Homo sapiens: one gene and its partner. The protein of the gene in region 1 interacts with the protein of each later gene in a pairwise test. Each region holds a gene or a part of one and is shown on either strand. Other genes may lie near its edges.

The links.
Region 2: the proteins of INSYN1 (region 1) and PBX3 interact in a two-hybrid assay, tested with the Homo sapiens proteins (one large-scale study listed by BioGRID).

Annotation. Positions count from the first base shown.
Region 1 is NC_000015.10:73,743,316-73,747,134, reverse strand, and holds part of INSYN1 (inhibitory synaptic factor 1), read left to right. Parts: intron 1-3,819. UniProt on the Homo sapiens protein: Component of the protein machinery at the inhibitory synapses, probably acting as a scaffold. Inhibitory synapses dampen neuronal activity through postsynaptic hyperpolarization.
Region 2 is NC_000009.12:125,928,763-125,932,581, forward strand, and holds part of PBX3 (pre-B-cell leukemia transcription factor 3), read left to right. Parts: intron 1-892; coding exon 893-1,083; intron 1,084-3,819. UniProt on the Homo sapiens protein: Transcriptional activator that binds the sequence 5'-ATCAATCAA-3'.

The DNA of each region.
Region 1 (3,819 bases):
AAGTGTGCTTGGCATATGCAGGTTCAGCTAAGGAAGCCAGAGCAGCTGGAGGGCAGTGAACAAGGAGAAGAGTAGAGGAAAGGTCAAAGAGGGAGCAGGGAGTCAGATTCCGTCGAGCCATGCACAGCATGCACGGAATTTGGATTCGTTCTCAGTGAGAATCCCACACACTCTCCAGGAATCTGCTGGTCATGTTTCTGGGTGGGAATCTGCCTCCCCACTGCTCCCCTGTTACCCACCCACCAGAAGCTCCCAAAGGCAGGGTTAAGGGCCCCTGTCCTTGGCCCCCAGGTATTGAGCTTACCTTGAGCAGGTACTTGGCCTCCTCATCCTTGGTTTCCCCCTCCCCCAGGCGTCACTCAACATGGGGGCTCAATAGTGATCCTTGCATTAACACCAGTGTCTCCCACATCATCGGTGACTCTTGGGTGGGATATAACTTAAGGGCACAGTTGCTCACTTTGGCCCAAACACCTCAGGAAGATGGAGGGGTTGGCACAACGTTTCCCCAGCCTTGGGTGGCAGTGGAGGATCCCCCACCGGATTTGCCTAGGAAGCAGTCATCCTGGCATTCTGTTTCCTGGCCATTCCATTGTGCAGTCCCATCGGCAAGGGGCTTTGTCTGAAGGTGGCAGGGAAAGCCATAGGCCATGCAAGTGTGAGATAAATGGGGCCCAGCCAGGAAGCAGCTGGAGCAGGAGAGGCTGGGGACCACGGAGCTGCGCCAAAGTGGGTCAGCTCCATCACCTGCAGCTCAGCAAGAATTGCGTGGATTTTTTTCTTATTATTTTTGTTCACGCCTTCCTTTCCTCCCTTTTCCCTTTGCCTTCTCCTCCTCCGGACAGATTTACCAAAGCTCCCTGGCCAATTAGGCCAAATTGCAGGATGAGAGCCATGAATCACGATCAGCTCGCTGCCCCTCCAACTCCACAGCCCCCCAAGAAGATAATAACGTAATCACAGAATTAAAAAATAATCAGTGGTCATAAATAATGCAGAATCCCCAGTTATGTAACCAGCTGCCTTGGGGAGCTGGGAGAGAGGGAAGGAGGTGGCAGCTTGTCAGGGGAGGTGAGGTGGGGCAGGGTGGGGGGTGTGGTGGGGGGTCCGGGGGTACAGGATGCTGGTTCTGGGACTACAGGTCCTCAGTCCTAGCTCTAAGGCCTTAAGGAACACAGCAAAGCTTCCACTGGAGAGGGGGCTCAGCCAGGGCTGGAGAGAGGGTTGGCGTCTGGCAATATAGGATTGTCCAGGTCTATGGAACTCTTCCTCAGAAAAGAAGCCCCCAGCAGTTTTTTTGTTTTGTTTTGTTTTGTTTTGTTTTTTGAGACGGAGTCTCGCTCTGTCGCCCAGGCTGGAGTGCAGTGGTGTGATCTCGGCTCACTGCAAGCTCTGCCTCCTGGGTTCACACCATTCTCCTGCCTCAGCCTCCCGAGTAGTTTTTATTAAGCCATCTGTCTCAACTCATCACTCATCCAACAGCTGTGTTTGCAGAATGTGCCGATCCCTGTGCCGAGCTGGGGATGTAGCGGTGAGCAAGAGACCTAGTCCTGCTCCTCATGGGGTTTACTGTGTAGTGGGGAGACAGACATCAACCACGTTATAACATATAGGTGCAAAATTGTAGCAGTGTTAAATATTGTGTAACATTTTCAGGAGAGGTGCAGGGTGCTTTGAGAGCCTTTCATAGGGAACCTGACCTCAGCTGGGGATCAGGGAAGGCTTCCTTCTCGAAGTGAAGACGGAGTGAGTAGGAAAGGAGGGAGGGCGTGTCAGGTGAGGCCCAGAGGCAGAAGTGAGCTCGATGGAGTGTGAGTGTGTAGGGGTGGTGAGGAGGCAGGCCTGGCAGGGTGGAGGCTGCTTGCTGGAGAGGAAAGGGGGTGGGTAGGGAGTTATGTTTGGGAGGCTTAGGAGTTTGGGGAGTATGGAAGGGCTGGAAGCACAGGGGCAACGTGGACCTGTTGGCTGATAAGAAAGTTCCCTAGGTGCAGCATGAAGCAAGAGCTGGGAGGAAGTTGCTATCGGTGGAAAGACTAGATGGGTGCAGTTTTTCAGCGAGGGGCGCTAAGGCTGTGACCAGGACAGAGGTTGGGGACACCTCTGGCACGAGGTTTGCAGGTTCTGCCACAGCCCTCAGTCCTGCCCTTGCTCTCTAGGGCTCCCTCTTGGTCTCTTCAGAGCAAGTCATTCTTGGTCTTAAGGTGCAATGCCCAGGAGTCAAGACTCACCCTCTGGTCCCAGCTCAGCTCCTCCCAGTCTCTGAGCCTCATTGCCCCCCTCGGCAAACACATTGAGACAGGTGGACTCAACAGTGCCTGCAGTCCCTTCTGGCTTGGGGGTTGTCTGATTCTGTAATTTTATGGTTCAATTTCTCTCTCCACTCTCTCTCTCCCCCTCTCTTTCCTTCTGTGTATATAATTATTTCCATGCACTCCAAGACAATCCCAAATTACATGTAGGCAAAATGATTATTAAACCTCAGGGAAAAATCACAGATTTCAAGACATCCAAAGCAGAGAGCAAGACAAGACTGGGGTCTGCTCCACACCTGCCCTCACCATTGGCCCAGGAAACGAGGCACCAGGGAAGAGCAGTGGGGATTGTGAACTGACCCAGGCCCCCCACAGAGAAGCTGCATACCCTTGGGCACATGGCTTCCCTTTCACATCCTCACTATGTCATTCATCAAGTGGTGTGACCTGTCTCACCTAATAGGTTGGGCCAGATTTGCCTGTGGGCCTCATAGCCAGTTGGTTTTTAGAACTTCTTCTGGTTCTGTTCTTTCTGGAGACAGCCCTAACTTTGGGCAAAATAGGTACTGTCCATGTGCTAGGTTTTGAAAGGCCTGGCATGTCCCATTATTCTGCCACAGGCACTGGAAATTCTGCCACAGTCACTGGACCCACATCAGAGGGTCATTCCTTTGGTGCAGAACTAATTCCCACTGCTCTTAGGCCTGGTGCGGGGGCATGATCACATGTTAGCCCCCAACGGTGCATTGTAGATGTTGGTAGTCTGCCTTGTTCCATATGCTGTCCAAAGCGCATTAAGCCATTAAATCCTCACAACAGCCCTATCAAGTAGGTATTACTAGAATTCTCCTTTGATGATGAACTTAGGCACAGAGACGTTGAGTAACTTGGCCAAGGTCACACAGCTGGTAAGCAGTGAAGCCAGGGTAGGACTCCATGTCTGGCTCCAGAGCCCAGGTTCTTAAGTATTTAGCTATCTTGACTCTGTGACACATTCATATCTGTTAAATTTTCTTTTTCTTTCTTTTTTTTTTTTTTTTTTTTTTTTTTTTTTGAGACAGAGTCTCTCTCTGTTGCCAGGCTGGAGTGCAGTGGCGCGATCTCGGCTCACTGCAATCTCCGCCTCCTGGGTTCAAGAGATTCCTCTGCCTCAGCCTCCCGAGTAGCTGGGACTCTATGCACGCACCACCACGCCCAGCTAATTTTTTTAATTTATTTTTATTTTTTAGTAGAGACGGGATTTCACCATGTTGGCCAGGATGGTCTCAATCTCCTGACCTCATGATCTGCCCGCCTCGGCCTCCCAAAGTGCTGGGATTACAGGCATGAGCCACCACACCCGGCCCATATCTGTTAAATTTTCATCACCCTGGGTGAGGAGGGGAGTGTTACTTCCTTTTATAGGACAGGAAATCAAGCCCCAGAGGGGGATAATCATCTGCCTAAGGTCTCTCAGCCAAGAGGTGGCAGACGTGGGACTCGGGAATGCAGGCCTCCCTCTTTCTCTTTCCTCCATCCCCCCAGGTTGGAACCAGAGAGGAGTGTACTAATAAAGAAGAGGAAGGGC
Region 2 (3,819 bases), on another chromosome or scaffold:
CCTGAGGATTGTTAACTAAAAAGTTTGAGACCCAGATCTGATCCTTATTTTCTGTTGGACATCCCTTGAAGAGTTGAGCTGCTTTACAGAGATGGCTTATATCCACTAAAGGCCTGCACTACAGCTAAATTATAATAGGTCATTGGAATGCTTGGCACGCAAGGCCCTTTATGTGCTAATTCAAACCTGAATCCTTTTGCTTCTTTACATATTATCTGTATTCCTATTTGCCATTCTCTGAACTTGCAACATACTGTTATTTCTAGTACCTGGAATTCCTCCTGACTTCCATCTTTATCCACCTTTCAAAGATGCTACCTATTGTTTAAAGCTCAATCCGTGAAGCCTACAGATGAAAATATTCCTTCCTTGGAACTTAATATCTTCCTGTTAGTCTTTGCACTGAATTAGTTTTTTATACATTTTTTCTCACCAAAGGCCAGGCCTGCATCTTGCTCATTTCTGTGTTCCTTATAGCACTGGCAAGAGTTTGAACTTTGTAGTTGTTCAGTAAGCATTTGTTGATTAAATGTAAAACTCCAGAGAAAATAGGTGGTACTTAGTATTAACAATTAACATATATTTTTACTTGTATATGGGAATTGATAGGGAGCATCCTCGAATGGGAAAACATCATTTTGGAACTGGACAGGGGTGGGTGGGAAGAGTAGTTGAATGCTGTCTCCTTGCACGTCTGACCATGCACGGTTTCAGAATTCTTGCTGCCTTAACTACTATTACTACCATTTTACAAGTGTCTTAGTTTTCATTTTACCCTACACACTGTATAATGCTATTGGTGAATGCAAATGAGGTGTAAATTCAGATGAGTGAATGTCTTCGTGTGATAGTAGATAGTTTCCAAAGGAGTGATTTTTTTTTCCCATTACAGGCATGTAATGAATTTACTACACATGTGATGAACCTTCTCCGAGAACAGAGTAGAACACGTCCCATTTCTCCAAAAGAGATTGAAAGAATGGTGGGCATCATCCATCGAAAATTTAGTTCCATTCAGATGCAGCTCAAACAAAGCACTTGTGAAGCAGTTATGATTTTAAGATCAAGGTTCCTTGATGCCAGGTATGTGAAGCCATAAATCTATTGCATGGCTTTCCCCCGTCTGTCACTCCTTGTGTATTATTTTCTGTAAAACTGACCAGTTGGTCTTAGATTCTTTTGGCCATATGAGTCTTTTGTACAATGGACAGGTAATTCAACTCATGGTTCCTGTGCTGTCAAGCTTTCCTGTCTGGGAATGGTAATGTGGGTTAGCTGCCAGTTTAGTGACTCAGGAAATGAATAGGATTAGTGTCTCTGCTAATGACTTTAGGAATATGTAGCCTTTCCATTCTGATGCTAAAAGGTATTTTTAAGGATAGTTTTCTGCATATAACTGTTTTAACAAGGGGTATTTTGTAAGAATTTCTTAATGTTACACGGGTTGTGCATAATATGGGAAAATACTTGGAGATACTGATACTCCTAAGAAGGAAGTGGCATTTCAGTTAATAGCAGTTACCACAAAACTCCAGAATCTGTATTTCCAAATCAAGAAAGAAAGCCTACCATTTTTCCTGTAAGGATGAAAATTTCCCTTTATCTGAAGCTTTCCCCAAGTTTCACAGGAGTTAGGTAATATATTGTATATGGTAATAAATTGTCTACAGTGACCTACTGAGTGACAGAACAGAAGAATTGTCAACGTCATAGTGTACGCTGCCCCTGTAGGGATGCCTCTCGGGGCATTGCTAAAGCTTATGATGAATCTGCAGCTTTGGAAAGAAGTTTCTATTTTGTTTTTCTTTCTTCTCCCATGGAATCTGACAGAGGTGATAATTATCATCCAAATCTCACAGTATTAAAGGAAATAACTAAGATAGCTTCTCAACTGGAAAACAAAGTGTGTGGAGCATTTTCAGTGTTTTTCATTTTAGCTCTTTATTTTCATCTCAGTTCCTGCCCATCCTTTTGTACATGGGCTAGCACAGTACCTACTAGTCTCCCTGTCTCCAGTCCTACTGCCCTCCAGCCCATCCTCCATATCCCTTGTCTGTTTCTATAACATCACCGTGCTACCATGATTGCTTTGCTTGAAAACCACAGTAGCTTTCCAATGCTCGATACATGCATACTTCACATATACACTCCTTAACCTGACATTTAAGGCCTGTTCCTGTCTGCATTACTTCTTTGTTGTTGTGAAGATTTTATTATTCTTTTTTCTATTTTAAAAATGCCAAGCTCACTATGGAAAGTTTGGAAAATATATGGAATAAAAGGATGAAGGATAAAAGTTAACCTCATTTTTATTACCTAAAGAAAAAATCACTATAAATGTTTTACAATATTCTCTCTCTTTTTGTTTGTTTGGGGGCTTTTTAAAAGAAATATTTCTGTGATGGGTCAATATGCATAATTTGGTCTGCTTTTTAAAAAATTTACCATGAATACATGAACATTTTCATGTAGTATAAGCTCTAATTATTAATAGCATTTTAACAATTGAAGTTACCAAATGGATATAAAATAAATAATGTCCTTAGCATTCCCTTATGCATTCCCTATGCACTCCACCCAGGCTGGAGTGCAGTAAATGATGCTATCATGGCTCACTGCAGCCTCGACATCCCATGCTCGAGTGATCTTCCTGCTTCTGCCTCCCGAGTAGCTGGGAGGCATTTGCCACCATGCTCGGATAATTTTTGTATTTTTTGTAGAGATGGTGTTTCACCATGTTGCCCAGCCTGGTCTTGAACTCCTGAACTCAAGCTATCCTGCCTCCCAAAGTGCTGGGATTATAGGCAGGAGCCACCATGCCCAGCCAACTATTAATTTTCATATAATTTCTTCCTTTCTTCCTTCCTTCCACAAATATTTATTGGTACTGAGGATATATTGGTAAACAAGACAGATTAATATACTTGCCCCAATTGAGCTTATATTCTACTTGAGGAAACAGACAGTAAACAGGTGAACAAATATACCATAACATTCTATTTAATAATGTAATTAAATGTAATAGGGTGATAAGTGGTATGCAGAAAAATAAAGCAAGTCAAGGGGAGAGAAAATGGAGAGGGTACTATTTTAGATAGATTTTTATTTAAACTAACATTTTAATGAAAATCTTCATTGATTGAACCTTTTTGGTCTTTAGGATTATTTCCTAAGGATCAATTCTTAGAAATGGAATTATTAGATCTGAGTTTGAACATTTTCAGTGTTCTTATTTATATATCACTAAATTGTTCTTTCCTGTGTTTCTTCCAAAATGAAATGCTTCATGGAATTATGTTTCTACTGCTTAGAATTCCTTCTTTTCCTAAGTCTAACCACTTACTTCCCTGGCTCCCACAACAAACTGTCTCTCTAAGCTGGTTACCAGTAATGAGTCATCATCTGTGAGGGTATCTGGAATGGAGCCCGGAATGGAACCAGTGCTTGTACTTGTTGGATCTAGTGAGATCTTGCTCATCGTTCCGGATCTGGTCTAAATGCTCGCTTTTCAGAAAATCCACCTTAATCACCCTGCTGGACTAGCCCTTCCTTCCCTTGAACACTTATACTATGTTTACGCAACTATTCAGACTGAAAGTCATGTAGGCTCCTTTTTCTTGTAGTTTTTCATGAACATTTCTTCTCTCCCTTAGTAAGCCACAGTGTCATTGAAAGCAACAGCCAAGACTTACACATTTGCATTCCCCACAATTCTAGCAAATGACTTACATGTTAGAGGCTACCAAAAATAATTTATTGACTGGCCAGATGAATGAATAATTCCACTTAATACTTTGTAACAGCTCAAATCAGGGTTAG